3 separate regions of the Homo sapiens genome follow, and regions 1 and 2 are each reported to be linked to region 3. The links are microRNA targets in miRTarBase. Many come from high-throughput screens and were not tested one by one. Region 3 holds a microRNA gene; each other region holds the end of a gene's coding sequence.

Evidence for each region. Region 3 holds the annotated microRNA hsa-miR-4706 (AGCGGGGAGGAAGUGGGCGCUGCUU, at 4,726-4,750, shown strand). A microRNA usually pairs through its seed, bases 2 to 8, with sites in the 3' UTR of a target mRNA and lowers its output. Matches are read on the target gene's strand: a 7mer-m8 pairs with bases 2 to 8, a 7mer-A1 pairs with bases 2 to 7 and ends in A, and an 8mer does both.
Region 1: the mRNA of HOXD3 is a reported target of hsa-miR-4706. Seed matches in the 3' UTR shown: 7mer-m8 at 1,059-1,065.
Region 2: miRTarBase lists DIRAS1 as a target of hsa-miR-4706. Seed matches in the 3' UTR shown: 7mer-A1 at 3,351-3,357.

What each region holds. Positions count from the first base shown.
Region 1 is chr2:176,171,312-176,178,329 of GRCh38, forward strand. It overlaps HOXD3 (homeobox D3), which reads left to right. Exons shown (of 4, transcript NM_006898.5): 4 at 206-1,787. The coding sequence ends at 963. HAGLR (HOXD antisense growth-associated long non-coding RNA) reads right to left here. Exons shown (of 3, transcript NR_033979.2): 2 at 6,021-6,183; 3 at 1,878-5,381. It overlaps HAGLROS (HAGLR opposite strand lncRNA), which reads left to right and starts at 6,855. Exons shown (of 2, transcript NR_110457.1): 1 at 6,855-6,942. RefSeq lists enhancers at 310-920, 6,252-7,018.
Region 2 is chr19:2,711,314-2,718,331 of GRCh38, forward strand. DIRAS1 (DIRAS family GTPase 1) reads right to left here. Exons shown (of 2, transcript NM_145173.4): 2 at 3,254-6,562. The coding sequence starts at 6,493. The coding sequence ends at 5,897. Among named protein-coding and RNA genes, the nearest start is that of DIRAS1, 6.5 kb to the right of the region's middle.
Region 3 is chr14:65,039,972-65,046,989 of GRCh38, forward strand. MIR4706 (microRNA 4706) reads left to right here and starts at 4,717; the gene lies at 4,717-4,798. CHURC1-FNTB (CHURC1-FNTB readthrough) reads left to right here. Exons shown (of 14, transcript NM_001202559.1): 10 at 819-948; 11 at 4,340-4,472. FNTB (farnesyltransferase, CAAX box, subunit beta) reads left to right here. Exons shown (of 12, transcript NM_002028.4): 8 at 819-948; 9 at 4,340-4,472. It also overlaps a transcript of MAX not described here.

The DNA.
Region 1 (7,018 bases), not on the chromosome of region 3:
GACTGATAGGTAGGCCTAGTAGGGGGTTGGTAGGTAGGTGAATTCCCCCTTGGAATCATACCTCTCAAACGGCCCTTCCCCTCCCCAGCCAGGATTGGAGGTGGGGGGAGGGAGGAGGAAAAGAGAACCAGGGAAGCACCCCTCTCCAGTCCTGAGGGTCCCCACCCACTCGCTCAGCGCCCTCCCTCTCTCCCTCCCTGCCCAGGAGAGAGCTGCGAGGACAAGAGCCCGCCAGGCCCAGCATCCAAGCGGGTACGCACGGCATACACGAGCGCGCAGCTGGTGGAATTGGAAAAGGAATTCCACTTCAACCGCTACTTGTGCCGGCCGCGCCGCGTGGAGATGGCCAACCTGCTGAATCTCACGGAACGCCAGATCAAGATCTGGTTCCAGAACCGGCGCATGAAGTACAAGAAGGACCAGAAGGCCAAGGGCATCCTGCACTCGCCGGCTAGCCAGTCCCCTGAGCGCAGCCCACCGCTCGGCGGCGCCGCTGGCCACGTGGCCTACTCCGGCCAGCTGCCGCCAGTGCCCGGCCTGGCCTACGACGCGCCCTCGCCGCCTGCTTTCGCCAAATCACAGCCCAATATGTACGGCCTGGCCGCCTACACGGCGCCACTCAGCAGCTGCCTGCCACAACAGAAGCGCTACGCAGCGCCGGAGTTCGAGCCCCATCCCATGGCGAGCAACGGCGGCGGCTTCGCCAGCGCCAACTTGCAGGGCAGCCCGGTGTACGTGGGCGGCAACTTCGTCGAGTCCATGGCGCCCGCGTCCGGGCCTGTCTTCAACCTGGGCCACCTCTCGCACCCGTCGTCGGCCAGCGTGGACTACAGTTGCGCCGCGCAGATTCCAGGCAACCACCACCATGGACCTTGCGACCCTCATCCCACCTACACAGATCTCTCGGCCCACCACTCGTCTCAGGGACGACTGCCGGAGGCTCCCAAACTGACGCATCTGTAGCGGCCGCCGCCAGCCCGAACTCGCGGCAAAATTACCTCTCTTGCTGTAGTGGTGGGGTAGAGGGTGGGGCCCGCGGGGCAGTTCGGGAACCCCCTTCCCCGCTCTTGCCCTGCCGCCGCCTCCCGGGTCTCAGGCCTCCAGCGGCGGAGGCGCAGGCGACCGGGCCTCCCCTCCATGGGCGTCCTTTGGGTGACTCGCCATAAATCAGCCGCAAGGATCCTTCCCTGTAAATTTGACAGTGCCACATACTGCGGACCAAGGGACTCCAATCTGGTAATGGTGTCCCAAAGGTAAGTCTGAGACCCATCAGCGGCGCGCCCTGCAGAGGGACCAGAGCTTGGAGAGTCTTGGGCCTGGCCCGCGTCTAGCTTAGTTTCAGAGACCTTAATTTATATTCTCCTTCCTGTGCCGTAAGGATTGCATCGGACTAAACTATCTGTATTTATTATTTGAAGCGAGTCATTTCGTTCCCTGATTATTTATCCTTGTCTGAATGTATTTATGTGTATATTTGTAGATTTATCCAGCCGAGCTTAGGAATTCGCTTCCAGGCCGTGGGGGCCACATTTCACCTCCTTAGTCCCCCTGGTCTGAACTAGTTGAGAGAGTAGTTTTGAACAGTCGTAACCGTGGCTGGTGTTTGTAGTTGACATAAAGGATTAAGACCGCAAATTGTCCTTCATGGGTAGAGTCAGGAAGCCCGGTGGCGTGGCACAACACACTTTGGTCATTTCTCAAAAACCACAGTCCTCACCACAGTTTATTGATTTCAAATTGTCTGGTACTATTGGAACAAATATTTAGAATAAAAAAATTTCCCAGTCGGAACTGTATCTGTGTTAATCATGCACACTTGCAAGCAGATCACTATGCCTTTATCTCGCACAATCCCCATGGAAGGCCCCGAAACAGACTGACACTTTGAAAAAAATATTTTATTTATTTGGAGTCTAGTGCATAAATTGGTTCTCGGGATACTTGATTACTTTCCAGCTATTGAAATTAGGGGAGGGGGAAATGAGGATGCAAACCTAAGAAGGTTCTGGGCGGGATGATTTGGGCAGGGCTTTTTGAAAGCAGCGCCTGCTTTGCTGTTTTTACTGCCTTCTTTCTAGACACAATCGACTTTTACACTGGGGAGACCAGAGCTCACTTTTCTGCATTAAGTAACAAAAAATAAACTTTGAAAGAAAACTGACAATCAAAGAAAAAACACAAGAGAAGTTGTAAGAAGAATTGAGCTATGAAAAAGCTAAGGTGTAGAAAAAGAAACCATCATTTGGAGACGCGTACCTAAGCTTTTTCTCTAGGAAATGCTGTCATGAATTCTTCCTTTGTAGTGATCATTAGTTCATTTCTAAAGAAAACAAACATTCCCCAAGATGTAAAGTAATAATATTTCATTAATGAAACATAACAAGTATAAACACCTTGTTTACTCCTGTTTCTTATACAAAATGGGCAAAAATGTCTTCAAGGATTTATAACCATTTTGTAAATATTAATGTGGCTTCTGCTAGGGGTGGACAACTTCCCGGCTTCTATGGGAGGGGCCACTTAGAAAACGCCTTCAGATAAGGTTCAATTCTTTTGTATTTCAGCAAAGTCAGCCCACGCATCTCTATTTGGTTTGACAAATAATGCAACTCCTACTACATCCCCGATGACACGAAGTGAAATTCCTATTGTGTGGAAATAATTTAACTTCTAATCTTCTGGTGGAACAACAATCGTTTCTATTTGGATGTTTGTATTTCACTAAGTAATGATGGCTCAAAATAATATTTAGTTTCCTTGTTCCTTTGTGCTGTTTTTAAAATGGCATGTTAGATTTGGGGGTGGGAGGGGATATCCTTTTGCTAAATTTCACTTTATCTGAGCAGGTTTAAAATATATATGTTGTAGAAGTGTATCAACAGAATAAATGACTTCAATCGAAGGCACATTTTACCCACTTTCAAGGCTTAACATTGTTTTCTATGAAATTTGCATCCATAGGCAGAATTTCTAATTGTCTTGTAAGAAATTATTTTTTAAGCTATTAGAGAAATCAAAGGAGAGCTCACTGCCTTGCAGGGATTACAACCACCTTTCTTAACTGGCTAAATATTAACTAGCTGAATTGTCAGGCTGCTTAGATTCAGCCCGATTTTCCCTCATCTCCTCTTCCTACCATAAATAATAATAAAAATACGTAATGTGTCATGGCTCCAGGCGTTTTCCAGCACAGTGTGTTACCGCAGGAGTATCTGCTGAGTCTGCGGGTGTCTGCAAAGCCCCAAGTGTCATTTGCGGCTTAGGGTTTCATGGATTAGACTTTAAACGGTGTCTAGCCCGGCTGACATTAGCTTCCTCTCACACTCAGGCTCCAAGGAAGTGTGGGATCAGGGGCTCCCTCTCCAGGCAGCCACAGCTTTCCCCGACGCCCTCCTCTCGAGTGGGGTGAGGGCTTGGACCAAATCTGCCACCTTCTGTCATCTCTGGAGGTTCCCGAGACTTCTAATAGCTCGGATCTGTTCCTGCCATTGGCGTGAGACTCATCTGAGGGGCGTGGGTGGGGGTGGGCGGCGAGCCGGGGGAGGGCGCGTTTCCGCGCGGCTGCCAGCCCAGGAGAAAGTTGGGGCCCGCGGCACAGCCATTTAAAACTTCATAAATTATAAACAAGCCGCCTTGGCCTTCGCAATAAATTCCGCTCCTTTTGAGCCTGCAATTAGTGTTAGAAAGCAACCGAGTCTAAACACAACCAAACGCCCTCTGAAGGGCCCAACTGCCTGAGGTTGCAAACCTTTATTTCCCAGCGCCACCCCCTCTCCGACTGAGGTTTGCACACACAGTCGCCTCCTCCCCCGCCACCGCCGGCGGTACACACTCGGCTGGGTTCCCGCTCTGCAAGGGAAGGTCACAATAGCTGCTCTATCGGCTGCGGAGGCGCCTGCCGCCTCCCTCCCGAGTCTCAGAAGCAGAAAAACAAGAGAATGGGGGAGGGGAGGCCCCAGCAACAGCGCCCTTTGCGGGAGGCAACCTCCACCCTAGCCAGGGTCTCTCTCCTGGGACGAGTGCTCGCAGAGGGTTGCGGGGAGGGCAAAGGGAGCGCACCAAGACCACCAGGCTGCTCCAGGCCTTGCCGCAGGGCGCTGGGTTGAGGGTGCCCGGAGCAGCCGCGCCATTGTGTGTCAGGTTTTCCCACGGGATCCGTGATGGGGGAGGCCATATAAAGGGAGCTCGGATCCGGGCCTCTCCGGCATTGGTCTCTGGGAGGGTCTACCTCGTTTGCCCAAGGGGAAGAAATGGCTCTGTCTCAGGCCTTAGCCAGCTCTGCTTTTTTCCTAGAGACTACTTTGGGGAAGGTGGGGATCAGGGAGATTGTGGGTCCTCCTGGGGTCTGAAGAAAGGGGTCAGGGCAGGATCTCAGGCCCATGGCTGAGGGGTGGCAGTCGTCTGGACATTCTAGGTGGTTCTGTCCAGGCAATCAAATATGAATTAAGGCAGGATAGCTGTGAGGCAGCCAGAATGGCCAGCTGCAAAACGGGAGGTGGGGGTGGGGAAGGAGATGCAGACAGTGAGAGCTTTCCCTGCAACCAAGAAAAACTCAGGATCCAGCCAGGAGTTGAAGTGCTGAGACCCAACTGAACTAGCCAGGAAGAATGGGGAAGTGGCAGAAGAAAGGCCTGGAGAGTAGTCCTGGTCACTGGTAAGCAGGTCAGAAAGGGCGATTAAGTACATATTCTGTCTCCTGGCTTTCAGACCTCCACCTTATCCAGGGACCTGACAGAGAAAAATCTGCCTCTGATGGAATCATTAAGTTAACCATCCATTTGTACCATTTCTTTGTACAGGCTTTCAAACGAGAGAGAGGAGAGAATACAGGAGGAGAATGTTTCCCCTTGGTGCAGCCCCAAGCTCCCTATCAGAGACACATCAGCCAAATTAGTTTCCGAGGCTCACAGGCTGCTAACATTGCTGAACAAGATTTTTCGAATTTCTATGTGTTAGGAGTATTAAAAGATAGTGATTACCTATACTAGCAGCCTTTGTCCCTTTTCTCTTCCCTAGTCTGTACCAGCCCACTGGCCCTTGAGTGAAGTGCATCTTCTCAGCCTGCGGACTTGGGAGCTCAGGCTCTCCATCTGTTGAGGTTTTTCATTAGGGAGACTACAGAGGATGTGTGTGGGTGTGTGTTTGAATAACAAAGAAGTAACCCTTCATTCTAATAAAAGTGTTCCTCTGCTTGACCTGGAGGAGCCAGAAGCTTGTTTATACCTTCAGTATTCAAGGGACAGTCACAGGCCTGTTTTGACCTTTTCCTGAGAATTAGCTGAAACTTCCCTCTGAAGTCAAGTAGTGAATCTGTTATAGGTCTAAGGAAGGTCCTCTTCATCTGGGAGTTCTTGGCATTACTTTGGTCCTTCTTTCAGAAACTGAAAGAAAAGAATAGGAAGAACAGAAGTTTGTGAGTAGGCAGGAAGGGACATGGATGACCCCAGTCTTCACAGGACTATGGCCTGATCACTTCGAGGCACTGCAACTTCCCAGAGTATATATGTAGGGCTTGGGTTGAGTGGCCCTGTTCCGACACTTTGGGCACAGGGAGCTGAGACTGGGCTGTCACTAGCCAAGCCCTTACCATCTTTGAGGGCTGGTTCTTAGATCTCTCTTGCAGAAGGCCTGGATAGAAAGGAGAAAGATTGGGTATATTGGGAGGCTGAGACAGGAGAATCGTTTGTACCTGGGAGGCAAGGTTGCAGTGAGCTGAGATCACACCATTGCACTCCAGCCTGGGCATCAAGAGTGAAACTCTATCTCAAAAAAAAAAAAAAAAAAAAAAAAAGATTGGGTACATAAGTCCTCTGCACTTTCTGCACTGGTGATGCTGGAGAGGAAGGACGGTGAATGATAAGAATCATCACAGAGGATGAAATCTTAGTTCTCATTGTTCCCTTCTTTTCTACTCCAGCTACAAATGCCCTTATCTTTGGAGTCCAAGGTTGGGAACAAATGGATTTAAGTACCTGGCCTAAAGCCTATTCCTAAAAACTTCCCTCAGGTTTCACACCTACCTTGGCAAGTTGGAAAGTGCAAAGACAATATAAGGGCCCATTTTCAGGCCAGGTCCAGCATGAAACAGAGTGAACAAAATTAGTTCCACACATTAGGGAAGAGCCAAGTCAGACGAATATCCAATCATTTGCAGTAGTAGAGGCAGGTGAAGGGTCCCCAGATCTGTAAGGCAGGAGTTACTGCATGAGTCTTTCTGTCCTAGATCTTGGGCAAAATGTCCTGATTGGTTCCTATAGCTAGTCTGGATTATTTTAAGGAAAGAATACTACCTGGAGAAATCATAAAAGCTGGGTTTTAACATTAGTAAGGGCCAGAAGAATTTAAATCCTAATTTAAACCAAAATTCATGGAGAGCTCTGGTACAGGCAGTGTTTTTACCTGGGAAGCAGGGCTCAAAACCTGGCCAGGAGGTCTTGTTGGGCCAGGAATGTCCGTGGTTGGTGAGGAGGCTGGGAGAAGGCCTTTTTGATGGCTCCATTGTTCACAGCGCTGCCCTACAAATACCATATCCGTCCCCACCTCCTCTGCAAGGGTCGAGCGGAAGAGTAGGTCTGGTGAGCTGAGCTCTAGGGAGCTGGTACCATCTTCCCTCAATCCCCCTCGGTTACCCCTTGGGGCAGCAACGACGCCATCCCAGCCCCTTCCAGAGAACACACAAAGGAAGCCCCACCCGTCCTTAGACCTGAGGACACGCTCGGGAGCGGGCTGACGTGGACCCCGTTTCAGGGCGCCCCGGGCCCCTGCGGGGAACAATAGCCGCCGCCTCCTGGGCGGTCTGGCGGGCGCGCGGCACAAACGTCCGCGCCGCCACGTGATGCGCGCGCTCGTTCCGCGCTCTCCGCGCCTCAGCGAGCGGCCAGGCTGCGGGCGGGGTGGGCTGGCGCTCCTGATCCACCTGGAACACTTTTGCAAAGACAGACGGTGAGTTAATCACCCTACCGGCTGGCGGCCGCGTCCCCTCTCGCCCGCGAGGAGGACTGGAGAAGGGGCTGGGGTG
Region 2 (7,018 bases), not on the chromosome of region 3:
TCCTGCCTTTGTAAAATAGGGCTCTTAGTGCCTGTCCGACCTCCTCAGCCAGCTGCGGTAAGTACACGGTACAGCGGGGCCCTCGAGGTCTCTTGAGGGAAATGCTGAAATGTTCCCGTAACCCCCTGGCATCCTTCTCGTGAAAGTCCAAACTCTTCCCACAGCCCACCAGGCACTGTTTGACCCCTGCTGGCGACCTTCAACTTCACTGGCCACCTTCCCTCTCCTCCCTCCACTCCTCCCAGCCAGGCCTCACCTGTTCCTGCTTTGACACCTTTGCTGGTCCCCCTGTCCAGTGCTCCGTCCCAGGTCCCCTTGGAGCTGGCCTCTCCCCCGCTTCCCACATCAGCAAACACGTCAGCTTCTGAGTCAGACCTCAGAAGGCCTGGGACTCCCAGCCACGTCACTTTTGTGATGCAGGTTTATCTTCTGCGTAGGGAGCATGTGTCTGCGATGATTTGATCCACTTCTTCATAGGGAATCATCGTCCCCAGTGGGTTATGCTCTCTGAGCAGGCAGGGGGCTCTGGGGCTGGTGTCTGTCACTGCTGTGTCCCCAGCATCAGGGCAGGACCAGGCATAGAGTGGTGCCTCTTACATACTGGATGAATGAATGAATGAATGAACCAATGAATACGTGAATGAATGATGTCTCAGCTCTTCCTTCCTTCCAGTCTGGTCCTGAACAACGCCTTACCTCTTCAGGTCAGATCCCTGCCCCAGCCTGCTCTGGGTTAGGGGTGAGGGGTGGGGGCTGGGCTGGCAGATGGGACAAGCAGGGAAGGTCCCCTGACATGGTTTGGCTCTCTGTCCCCACCCAAATCTCATGTTGAATTGTAGTCCCGTGTTGGAGGTAGTGCCTGATGGGAGGCGACTGGATCATGACGGTGGATCCTCATGAATGGATCCACCCCTCAGTCCTGTCTCATAATAGAGTTCTCACAAGATCCGGTATGGCACCTCCTCCCCTGTGCTCCTGCTCCGGCCGAGTGACCTGCCTGCTCCCCTCTGCCTTCCCCCATGACCGTAAGTTTCCTGAGGCCTCCCAGAAGCAGCTGCTGCCATGCTTCCTGCACAGGCTGTGGAACTATGAGCCAATTAAACCTCTTTTCTCTATCATTTACCTGTATCAGGTATTTCTTTTCTTTTTGTGGGGCGGCGGGGGGTTGGACAGAGTTTCATTCTCGTCACCCAGGCTGGAGTGTAGTGGCACGATCTCAGCTCACTGCAAGCTCCGCCTCCCGGGTTCAAGTGATCCTCCTGCCTCAGCCTCCCTAGTAGTTGGGATTACAGACTCCCGCCACCACGCCCAGCTAATTTTTTGTATTTTTAGTAGAGACAGGGTTTTGCCATGTGAGCCAGGCTGGTCTCAAACTTCTGGTCTCAGGTAATATGCCCTTCTCGGCCTCCCAAAGTGCTGGGACTACAGGCATGAGCCACCGTGCCCGGCCTGGGTATTTCTTTATAGCATTCCAAGAATGGACTAATACAGTCTCCTCTGCCCCAACGCCACTGGGCCTGCAAGGAAATTGTCCACGTTCACAGAAAGTCCAGCTGGGAGGATGTCCCCAGCTAATGTGCACAGAGTGAATCTGGAAACCAACACCCTAGAAAAAAGCCACATAAAGACATCTCCAAGCAGAGTCCCAGACGGGTCCTGCCTTGCCTCCCCTGCTGCATGTCCTCAACCCACTCCCTCCACCTCCCCACCACCATCCCATCCTTCGCTTCCTACACAGGTCCCCTCCTCCACTCTTCACCCCATCCCTCACTTTCTACACCCACCACCTCCTCCACCCTTCCTCCCATCCCTCACTTCCTCCACCCATCACCTCCTCCATCCTTCATCCCATCCCTCACTTCCTACACCCATCGCCTCCTCCACCCTTCACCCCATACCTCACTTCCTACACCCATCACCTCCTCCACCCTTCACCCCATACCTCACTTCCTACACCCACCACCTCCTCCACCCTTCATCCCATTCCTCACTTCCTACACCCACCACCTCCTCCACCCTTCATCCCATCCCTCACTTCCTACACCCATCACCTCCTCCACCCTTCATCCCATCCGTCACTGTCTACACCGATCACCTCCTCCACCCTTCATCCCATCCCTCACTTCCTACACCCACCACCTCCTCCACCCTTAATGCCATCTCTCACTTCCTACACCCATCACCTCCTCCACCCTTCATCCCATCCATCACTGTCTACACCCATCACCTCCTCCACCCTTCATCCCATCCCTCACTTCCTCCACGCACCACCTCCTCCACCCTTCATCCCATCCCTCACTTCCTACACCCGTCACCTCCTCCACCCTTCATCCCATTCCTCACTTCCTACACCCACCACCTCCTCCACCCTTCATCCCATCCCTCACTTCCTACACCCGTCACCTCCTCCACCCTTCATCCCATCCCTCACTTCCTACACCCACCACCTCCTCCACCCTTCATCCCATCCCTCACTTCCTACACCCGTCACCTCCTCCACCCTTCATCCCATCCCTCACTTCCTACACCCACCACCTCCTCCACCCTTCATCCCATCCCTCACTTCCTACACCCGTCACCTCCTCCACCCTTCATCCCATTCCTCACTTCCTACACCCACCACCTCCTCCACCCTTCATCCCATTCCTCACTTCCTACACCCACCACCTCCTCCACCCTTCATCCCATCCCTCACTTCCTACACCCATCACCTCCTCCACCCTTCATCCCATCCCTCACTTCCTCCACCCACCACCTCCTCCACCCTTCACCCCATCCCTCACTTCCTACACCCATCACCTCCTCCACCCTTCACACCATCCCTCACTTCCTACACCCACCACTTCCTCCACCCTTCATCCCATCCCTCACTTCCTACACCCACCACCTCCTCCACCCTTCACCCCATCCCTCACTTCCTACACCCGTCACCTCCTCCACCCTTCATCCCATCCCTCACTTCCTACACCCACCACCTTCTCAACCCTTCACCCCATCCCTCACTTCCTCCACCCACCACCTCCTCCACCCTTCATCCCATCCCTCACTTCCTACACCCATCACCTCCTCCACCCTTCATCCCATCCCTCACTTCCTACACCCATCACCTCCTCCACCCTTCATCCCATCCCTCACTTCCTACACCCATCACCTCCTTCACCCTTCACCCCATCCTGCACCTCCCCACCCTTCTTGATCCTTTACAGGCGGTGAGCTGACACCCCACGCCCACCACAGAGACAGGGCGCCATGCTGGTGGGGAATGCAGGATCCACTTTTTTATTGCAGGAAGACTATGTCTAGAGCGAAGGCTACACAGACCCCACGATGGGGGAGTGGGGGCACCCACATGCGGGGGGAGAGGGGGCAGGGGCGGAGTCACAGCAAGCATGGCCTGGCACAGTCCCCAGCACCAGGGATGCCCAGGCAGGATGGGCCAGCAGCCAGGACAGGCTCGGGTCCCCTCCTATTGCAGATGCCCTCTCTCCCCAGGGTCGGGCAGGGCCTGAGGTGGGAGAGGCCTGGAGGTGGGCAGGGCCCCAAGGAGATTGTGCTATCAGGGTGTGTCCCTGAGAAAGGGCCGCAGACCCCTGCCCAGCCTCACTCTCTCCGGCACCTTCAGAACCCAGAAGCTACTGCCAGGACAGGAGAGGAGGCAACATCAGCTGCTGGTGGGCCCTGGGCCAGCCCAAGTTTTGGGGGGACCCAGCTCTGCTCAGACACAATGCCAGCTCTTCTGGGAGCCCGGTCCACGTGCTGGATAGCAACACACACGCACGTGTGCACACTCCCTCTCTCTGAGTGTGTCCAATAAACATTTGTTGAGTAAACACTCACACGAACACAGAGGAAAACAAACATGCTTGTACCAAATCAGACACGAGCAATCTGTTACCTACATAGTCCCACCTGGCCACATGACTACAGAGACACATGTGTGCAATCTCTCTCTCTCTCTCACTGCACAAAAGGGCGTGCGCACACACACACGTTGCTTCCTCACACCCAATAAGACCAAAACCTCCATCTCACCTTCCCTCACTAACTTAGCTGCCATGCTCCGAGCCCCGCTGTGGAGAGACCCACATGGTACAGAACAAAGGGCAGCTTCCAGCCAACAGCCAGCGAGGAACTGAGGCCTTCAGTCTTGCAACAGCAAGGAACTGAATGCTGCAACAACCACATGAGCTTCTAAGAAGCAAATCCTTCCCCGATCAGGCCTTCAGATGAGACCTCTGCCTGGCGAATGCTTTGATTGCAGCCTCCTGAGATCCCAAGTAGAGGACCCAGCCAACCTGCACCCAGGCTCTTGACCCACAGAATCTATGAGATAATAAGCATGTGTTGTTTCTGGTTGCTACATTTGTGGTCATTTGTTACACAGCAGTAGCTGACTGATACAGATTTGGAACCGAAAGTCACATTGCTAGAGTCATGTTGCTATAGAGTGGAACACAGATCGTGTCCCTCAATCAGGACAAACATATTTACAGATAAATGCTCTCAGATAAACCATATCACCCACTCCCCAAAATATAGTCATGCTCATACAGGCACAAAGATTCACACAGACACCTCACACATATCCAGTCTTGCTGACAACCACACACAGGTATCTACAACTACCCACCTCTCTGTATACCCTACACCACTATTACACACACAGACTGCCACAAAAACATATCATCCCAGACAGACACACACAGGTATACACGCAGATGCACTTAGATACAAGTCACCCATCCGCGCACCCCAGGTTGCACAAATACACCATTCCATAGCCACTTCCGTGTATGTTGGACACAACCCTGTGGGGTCACACGAGTGTGGTGTCACTCAGACTCTCTCAAAAAACACCCAGAACCTCATGGCTGCAGGTACACTCGACTCCAGGACGCCACCTTCCCGGGCAGGCCCTGCTCTCTGGGGCACAGGTGGTGGGGAGGAAGTGGGTGGGGCAGACCTCTGTCCGGGGCGCCCTCGGATCCTGCTGGTGCTGGCTCCCATCGGCTGTCCCCCCACGGGGGTGTAATTGATGTATCTCTGGCCGGGGCCCCGGGTACCCCCTCCTGAGCACCCCAGGTCCCCACCCGCCATGCGTTGCTAACGTCTCTGTCTTGGTGGAAGAGGCGGGTCCCGGGTGGGCGGTGTCCGGGAAGCCCCTCCACGCCCATGGTGCCTCTCCAGCGGGGCAGTTGTGCTGTGGATGTGGCTGGTCCCGGGGGTGGGATTCGGGGCTGGCAGGGGCACTGCTGCAGGCCCTGTGGTTATTGCCTGGTGGCCTGAGGCCCATCCCACGGGCCCCACACCCCACTGTGAAGACAGAGGAGAGAGGTGCGTCTGGAACCGGAGGAGTGGGCACAGATCAGAGGTCACGACGGGCCGGGTGGGCTTGGGTGTATGTTAACACCAAATAGGAGAAAAAAGAAAAAAATATCTGAGGCCGATGTGCATTTTCAACTCCCCCCTCCCCCAGAAGGTCACAGTGATCAAATGTGAGGGACAGGACGCGCAGGTCTGGCTGGGGACACCCCAGGGAAAGAGATGGAAACGGGGAAACGCAGCCTCCTCTGGTCCTGGTGGGAACAAGCAGCTCCTCTTGCCAGCTCCCCATCCTGTTTTCCCATCTGCAGGACAAGGGGGCCACCTCCGGCTCTTGGTTTTGGAGGGTACAGACAGAACAGGAGGGTGGAGAGAGAGCAGGGGAGGAAGAAAAGCCCCAGCCCTGCCTCGGGGTGGGCAGGGGCAGCGGAGGGGGGGGCGGTGGCCTCGGTTTCCCCAGCCGAGGTGTCGGAGGAAGGATGAGAGAAGAGGAGGAGGCCGAGGAGGGTGTCGGTGTTGGGGGAGGCAGCGGGGGTCAGTGGGGGTGGGCGGCGGGCAGGCGGGCGTTCCGGGCTCACATGAGGGTGCATTTGCCCTTGACGCGGTCTGTCCTCTTCTGCTTCCCGGAGCGCTTGCCGTCGATGTTGAGGCTCATGTTCCGGCGCGTCTCCAGCGTCAGCAGCTCCTGGAAGAGCTCCTTGACGTTGTAGTTCATCTTGGCCGAGGTCTCCATGAAAGCGCACTTCCACTCCTGGGCCACCGCCTGCGCCTCGCGCGTGTCCACCTCCCGCTGCGTCTCATCGCACTTGTTGCCCACGAGCATCACGGGGATGTCCTCCACGCTGCCCTTGATCTGCACGATGAGCTTGTAGATGGGCCCCAGCTCCTCCAGCGACTGCTTGCTGGTGACGGAGAACACCAGGATGAAGGCGTGGCCCTTGGAGATGGACAGGCGCTGCATGGCCGGGAACTGGTGGCTGCCGGTGGTGTCTGTGATCTGCAGCGTGCACACGCTCTTGTCGCAGCTGATCACCTGCCGGTAGGTGTCCTCGATGGTGGGGATGTAGGTGTCGCGGAACGTGCCCTTCACGAAGCGCAGCACCAGCGAGCTCTTGCCCACGCCGCCCGCCCCGAACACCACCACGCGGTAATCGTTACTCTGTTCCGGCATCTTCCCCGCGGCGGGTGGGCGGCCGGGGCCGGGAGGGCTGGTGCCAGCTGCAAGAACCCCAGACCGAGCCTGTGCAGAGAGGAGGGTCACACGTCAAAGGCCACCCAGGCTTGAGGGGACAGCCCCACGCCCCGGGGAGGGAGGAGGACATGGCGGCTTCTCAGAGGAGGTGGCTGCCGTGCCTCCTGCCTCCTGAAAAGGCCCATTTGCTTGTGGCTGACTTTGCAGTTCTGTCCCACAGGCGGGCGCACAGCCAACACCCTTTGCTTACTTCTCCCTAACAAAATCTGGGGCCTGAGCTTCCCCGGGGGACGCTGAGCTAGGAGAGGCGTGGGAGACGCCGGGATGCCCACGAAACTCCTTCCCCGGGTGTGGGTGTCCCTTCCAGGCTGTGCCAGCTTCCCCCTCTCTTCCCAGTGTGGCAGGGGCCCCTGGAAGCTAGCAGGCCTGGCTTCCACCTCTCGCTCCACACCTGCCTGGCTCTGAGACCTTGCCGAGCCATCATGCCACCCTGAGCCTGTTTGG
Region 3 (7,018 bases):
TGAGGCCAGAAATTTAAGACCAGCCTGGGTAACATGGCAATGCCCCATCTCTACAAAAAATACAAAAAATGGTCCGGGTATGGTGGGGCACGCCCATAGTCCCAGCTACTCAGGAGGCTGAGGTGGGAGGATTGCCTGAGTCCAGGAGGTTGAGGCTGCAGTGAGCCATGATCTGCAGTCAACCTAGGTAACAGAGTTAAGACCCTGTTTCAAAAATAAAAGATCACTAGAATCAACAATCACTCTTTAATTTTATTTTAACTTGATGGTTATCACTATATATATATGTATATATATGTATATATATGTGTGTATATATATATATGTATATATATGTGTATATATGTACATATATGTATATGTATGATTTTATAACTTTTTCCCAAAGAGTAATAATTTGAATTATTATGTTTCTTACACAAGTAGGCTGTTTCTAAGTGTCTGGGTTTTTAACATTTTACAGTTTTTATTATACTTACATTTTTTGGAGACCTAGTCTCACTCTTTCACCCGGGCTGGAGCACAATGGTGTGATCATAGCTCACTGCAGCCTCGAACTCCTCGCCTCAAGTGATCTTCTTGCCTTAGTCTCCTGAGCAGCTGGGATTACACATGGGTGCCACCAGGCCCAGCTTTTTTTTTTTTTTTTTTTTGAAAAGACATTTCCAAAAGTTAATTAGTTGGCATCTTTTCATTCATAGTTGTGATGGTTCACACCTTAATCTGAGTGAACTTTTTCTCTGCCACCTAGGATGGTCCTGGTCTTGTGTACGTCCACTCACTGGCCACTCATTCTGCTTTTCTCAATCTCTTCTTAGGTGTCAGAACTGGGAAGGTGGCATTGGCGGGGTACCAGGGATGGAAGCCCATGGTGGCTATACCTTCTGTGGCCTGGCCGCGCTGGTAATCCTCAAGAGGGAACGTTCCTTGAACTTGAAGAGCTTATTAGTAAGTATCTTTTGAGCCATCCCCCTCTCAGGCCCCAGGTCATGGTGATGTGATTGTACTCAGACATGCAGGCTTCAGGAGAGTTTGGCTATGGGAAGGGCTAAGAGAGTTAGCTCTGTTCCAACACAGAGGAAGGAGTGAGCAGCTGCTCTGTCTTGGCTCCCCCTTCTGCCTTTCTGTCTTCCTGCTTAGAGCTTTTTACATAGTGTGTAGACTACATAGACTGTGTGCTGCAGACATCTGGTGTGAGCAGAGTACCTTCCTTATACTTCAGTTTCGTAGAATTAGAGGTTATCGTGTGTTATAGAAAGAACCTCCTAAGAGGAAAAGTTACAAGAAGAGCTTTGCAGCATTTCGAAACCAAACTTTTATTACCTGCTGCACTGTGTAAACATTTAGTACCTACATTTAAATGAGTTGTTTAGGCAGAGCTGGCTAATTGCATTGAGAAGGCAGCCCAACATTTATGTCTGGACCCCACGCTCCTGGCCAGTATTCAGAAGAAACTCAGAAAGCAGTCAGCTTCAGGGAGTCACTAGATTGTAGTTAAATGATCAGTGGGTGCACAAACACACACACCTCCACGGCCACCAGGGAGAAGGCATTCCCCGTCATGTCATTTGGGGAGCATGTACCCCCTGACCATGACGTCAAAGCAAACCAGCTGCAACTGACATGCACCTCCTCTCCCTGAGTTCAGATGCCAGCCTCCCGTTATGCGGCCCATCGTGAGCTTCCTGGAGAGTTTCTGTTGTACCCTGTAGACATGTAACCAGCAGTGTCTTGCCTCCACCTTCAGAAAGCCTCCCCCGGTGTAGTCTTTTTAAAGATTCATGAAGGCTTGAAGGCTCATGCTGAAACAGCCAACTTTGTATGCTGAACTTAAGAGTTTCTCAGATGTTTTAAAATCTGAACACCAATAAGGCATGAAACAAAAAAGTCCCATCTCCCAGGCAGAGATAAGGAATGTGATTAGGGAGTGCCTCAGTTATAAAGACAGTGTTCTAGATTTGAACCCTGTCCCTACTACATTTGAGACATGAGTCCTTGGGCAAATTGTCTAATCTCTTTTAGCTTGATATTTTTTTCTTTTATAAGGTAGGGATAACAATCCTTATTTTTTTAAGGTTAAAGGAGAGAACATTTATAAACAGCCTGGCACATAGTAGGTACTTAATAAATGTTAGTGTCCCTCTAACCCACAGTAATAATCTTTTTGGCACAAGGGACCAGTTTTGTGGGAGATAATTTTTCCGTGGACCTGGGGTTGGGGGTGGGACGGGGGGTGATGGCTTCAGGATGATTCAAGTACATTACATTTATTGTGTACTTTATTTCTATTATTACACTGTAATATATAATGAAATAATTATACAACTCACCATAATGTAGAATCAGTGAGAGCCCTGAGCTTGTTTTCTTTCAACTAGACAGTCCCATTTGGGGGTGATGGGAGACAGTGACAGATCATCAGGCATTAGACTCTCATGTAGAGCGTGCAACCTAGAAGCCTGGCATACACGGTTCACAGTAGGGTTTGCGCTCCTATGAGAATCTAATGCTGCTGCTGATCTGTCAGGAAGTGGAGCTCAGGCAGTAATGGGAGCAGTGAGGAGCAGCTGTAAATACAGATTAAGCTTCACTGGCTCACCCACCACTCATGTCCTGCTGTGCAGCCTGGCATGGTCTGGGGGTTAGGGACCCCTGCTCTAATCCAGACTACTCCCTTCCATTTGCTTTGGGAGAAGTAGGACCCATATCTGAAGTATGAATTCCTATAGCCCAAGGAAACAGAACAAATCCATGGGCTTAGGCACTGGAAAAAGTAAATTAGTCTGCTTAAAAACACTTAAGCCCTGCGGTAAGTAGAAATGAGGAACCGACTCCCACTGCAGCGCCTGCTTTCTCTCTGCCTGAGTAATGCTTAGCCCACTTCCATTACATGCTGGAAGCCCTGGTTCATTTAAGATCAACCGAGGATATATTAGTACCTGAACCTGCAGTACAGTGTTTTCTGTCTCTTTTAAGCATTTGTGACTGTGACTCTCTATGGGCAGGTGTTGCCTTGAAGAGGGAATAATCTAAACAACAGCTTTTAGGGGAGGGCTGGCCCCCACTTCCATCAAGGGTCCCAGTGGCTCCTTTCAGGACCTTTACCTAGTAAGACTCTAGAAACAGGAAGTACCCTCCCCTGTACCCTTTCAGTTGAGTGAGGCAGCTCTGTAAGTCCGTGGCTGGAACGGCCTAGGTGGTCTAGGGAGGGAAATGGAAATGTCATATCTGCTCAGCCAGTTGGTTCTGCTCATTCTGAGGGACCAAACCCATGACTATCTTGATCTTTGTAGTAGAGTGTGTTTAGAAAACTTGTAGATAAGCAAGGAATGGTGGTATCGTGTGTGACCGCTGAGTGACATCAAGACCAAGACCTATTTTACAGCTTCAAAGTAAAAGATTTTCTTATATCAGCCACAGACTGGGCAGAGTTGTCATTTGGTAATTAGAATGAATGGCTTCTGCTTTCAGGCCTGCTAGTGACTTGCTAAGAGACCTTGGGTAAATTTCCCCAGGTGCCAAGTAAAAGTCAGGAGCAGTTTGAGATCATCTGATGAAATGTAGTACCAGGCCGGGCACGGTGGCTCACGCCTGTAATCCCAGCACTTTGGGAGGCCGAGGCGGGTGGATCATGAGGTCAGGAGATCGAGACCATCCTGGCTAACAAGGTGAAACCCCGTCTCTACTAAAAATACAAAAAATTAGCCGGGCGCGGTGGCGGGCGCCTGTGGTCCCAGCTACTCGGGAGGCTGAGGCAGGAGAATGGCGTGAACCCGGGAAGCGGAGCTTGCAGTGAGCCGAGATTGCGCCACTGCAGTCCGCAGTCCGGCCTGGGCGACAGAGCGAGACTCCGTCTCAAAAAAAAAAAAAAAAAAAAAAAAAAAAAAAAGAAATGTAGTACCAAATTCCATTTATCTGCTTTTAATAAACTCCCCGGAGCAGGGAAGTAATGAGAAATGAGCTACTGGTAGTCTTGCCTTCAATTTCCAACTTAAGCCATGTTTATTAAGAGACTTTGAAGGTCTCCTTACAAACCAGCTTGGCCTCTTTATCTTCTCAGCACTGGCACTGCTTTGGAACCCAGGAAAAGGTAGTTGTCTGCCAGGCATTGAGCAGAGATCAGTGCTGGATGCCTCTACAGCGTTGGCTTAAATGCTTCACTCTGTGTCTATGGCAGTGTGGGGAGGGAAGGAAAGAAAACCAGAGCACCAAAACTAGAGTGCCAAGAAGCCACAAGATGGGAAACCCTCCATCCCACAGATTGACTCCTGGAGATTCTGTCGGGCTGGATTTTGTCTCTTTTAGCCTACAACTGCCTTTCCCATCTGTGTCTCCTCAGCAATGGGTGACAAGCCGGCAGATGCGATTTGAAGGAGGATTTCAGGGCCGCTGCAACAAGCTGGTGGATGGCTGCTACTCCTTCTGGCAGGCGGGGCTCCTGCCCCTGCTCCACCGCGCACTGCACGCCCAAGGTGAGCCTGGGGAGCTGTTCACTTGGGGCTGGATGATTTCCCTCCACTACTCACAAAGTCTGGAAGCCCAGCGTGCTTTTTTAGAGGGGTTGAAATGAGCTCTGTCTATCCTGGATTTTGAGTGCCCAGTGTGGAACCTCATGCCGTGGGGCATGCGAATGCAGAGTAAGATTTAGTTTCATTGGTTTAGTGTCATTCTTTGCTTCTTCAAATTGGCTGCGACAGAATGAGCTTCCTTGAAATTGCTACGGGGAGCGGGGAGGAAGTGGGCGCTGCTTCTGCGTTATCTGGAAGGAGCAGCCCACTCCTGTCCTGGGCTCTGTGGTGATTGCCACCTCCTCTGGGTGCAGGGCAGAGCTGAAAACCCTCAGTGTTGCAACAGTCACTGTTGCAACAGCAACAGGAAAGGCAACTGCGTAAAGGGGTAGAGAACCAGAACCCATGTGTAGGGGTGGGTTGTAGGGGTGGGTTGCCCCTACACCATGGAGAAGAGACTCGCCGTGTCTGACTGGCTGCAGAGTTGTCACTATTAGAAATGTTTTATTTTACATTCATTGAATAAGCCTAAATGGGAGTTTGTTCCACCTGCACCATTGGAGTAGAGAAATCCACGTTCGTTTCTGTGGGGTCTCAAATGGGAACGCAAAACCGAAGTAGTTAGTGAGCAAAAAGTCTGGGAACATTCTCTCTCTATCTCTTGAAACCTCAGTCTGCCTGCTAACTCCTGCACCATCTTTCTGGTGTACTTGATGTGAGAGCAGGTGTCTCTGAGTAGACCTGTGGGAGAGAGGAAGTCATGGGGCCCTGCTGGTTGCTGATCTGTTTTTGGAATGAGATCCCTGGGTCCAAAGAGAAGCTGTTCTTCGGACTTAGTTGGATAATGTAACTGCTCAAATGTAAAAGATGAGATTCTTTTCTGCCCCTCCCCATACTTTTTTTTCCTGTTTCTGAGCCCCCCACCCCCCGTCTTCCCCCCTCCCCGCCGCCCCCGAGATGGAGTCGTGCTCTGTCTCCCAGGCTGGAGTGCAGTGGCACGATCTTGGCTCACTGCAGCCTCCACCTCCCAGGTTCAAGCAATTCTCCTGCCTCAGCCTCCTGAGTAGCTGGGACTACAGGCGCGTGCCACCACACCTGGCTAATTTTTGTATTTTTAGTAGAGACAGGGTTTCACCATGTTGGACAGGCTGTTCTTGAACTCCTTACCTCAGGTGATCCGCCCACTTCGGCCTCCCAAAGTGCTGGGATTATAGGCGTGAGCCACCGCACCCGGCCCTGAGCCTCATTATTTAGTTTCTTAATTTCCTTTGAGTTGTTGAGTTGTGACCATTTCTGACACTGAATTAAAGTAAGCAGAGCCTCTGTCCCATTTTCCCGGCCTGGGCCCACTGGGCTTTAGGTGTCAGTATTAAGGCATATAAGGCACTTACCCTTGGAACACAGCAAGTGCACTGTCAGCAAGTGCACTGACTTTGGAGCCTGCACAGTCTCTGCCTTGACCACCAGTAGGGAAGTCAGGAATTCCCCAAGTCAAACATTTTTTATTTTAGTATTATTTTTTTTTGAGACGGAGTTTCACTCTTGTTGCCCAGGCCGGAGTGCAATGGATCACTGCAACCTCTGCCCCCTGGGTTCAAGTAATTCTCCTGCCTTAGCCTCCTAAATAGCTGGGATTATAGGCATGCACCACCACGCCCAGCCAATTTTGTATTTTTAGTAGAGACAGGGTTTCTCCATGTTGGTCAGGCTGGTCTCGAACTCCTGACCTCAGGTGATCTGTCCGCCTTGGCCTCCCAAAGTGCTGGGATTACAGGCGTGAGCCACCGTGCCTGGCCCAACATTTCTAAGATAGAAAAAAACTTGGGGTCATGGTGATCTCTTTATTTGGAACTGGTGAGGTCAAGCCCCTGGTAAAATGGTCAGTCTTTTACAAACCTGTCCCTGGCATGGATAAGACTCAGTAATTCTGCAATCCCAGGGAAATGTGGAATGAGCTATAACAGGAGCACCACCTGTCAAAGTCTTCCAGGGGGGCTGCTGGTTAATTGTTTCTTGTAGCACATGTTCTAGGGGGCTTAGTGGCATTCAAAGCTTTGTCTATGGAAAAGGGTGCCTATGAATCTTGGTGCTTCCAGCTTTTTTCATTGGCTGGGAGAAGGCCTGTGTTGTCTTCTCAGACACAGGGCATCTCTTGAACTTGGAACAGACAGGAGTCTGTAAAGAAGGGAAGTGTGTTGAAAGGAGGGCAAAATACTGACTTTGGGAGTCAAAAGGGGATGCAGTGTAGAAAGATAGTCACAATATATTGTGATCATATCAAAGCAATATGTGTGGAATCCCATTTTTAGTGAAGAGTTGACTACAAAAAATTCATAGAAAGTATCTAGGATGTGAAGTTACAGGTGATGTTTGCTTCTGTTTGTATTTTCTAATCTTTCTATAGTTAATAGGTATTTCTTGCATAAAAAAAGACAACAAAAGTTATTTTACAGAAACAGGGAAATTCTACAAACAAAACAAGCAAAAAGGTGCGAAAAATATTTATAACA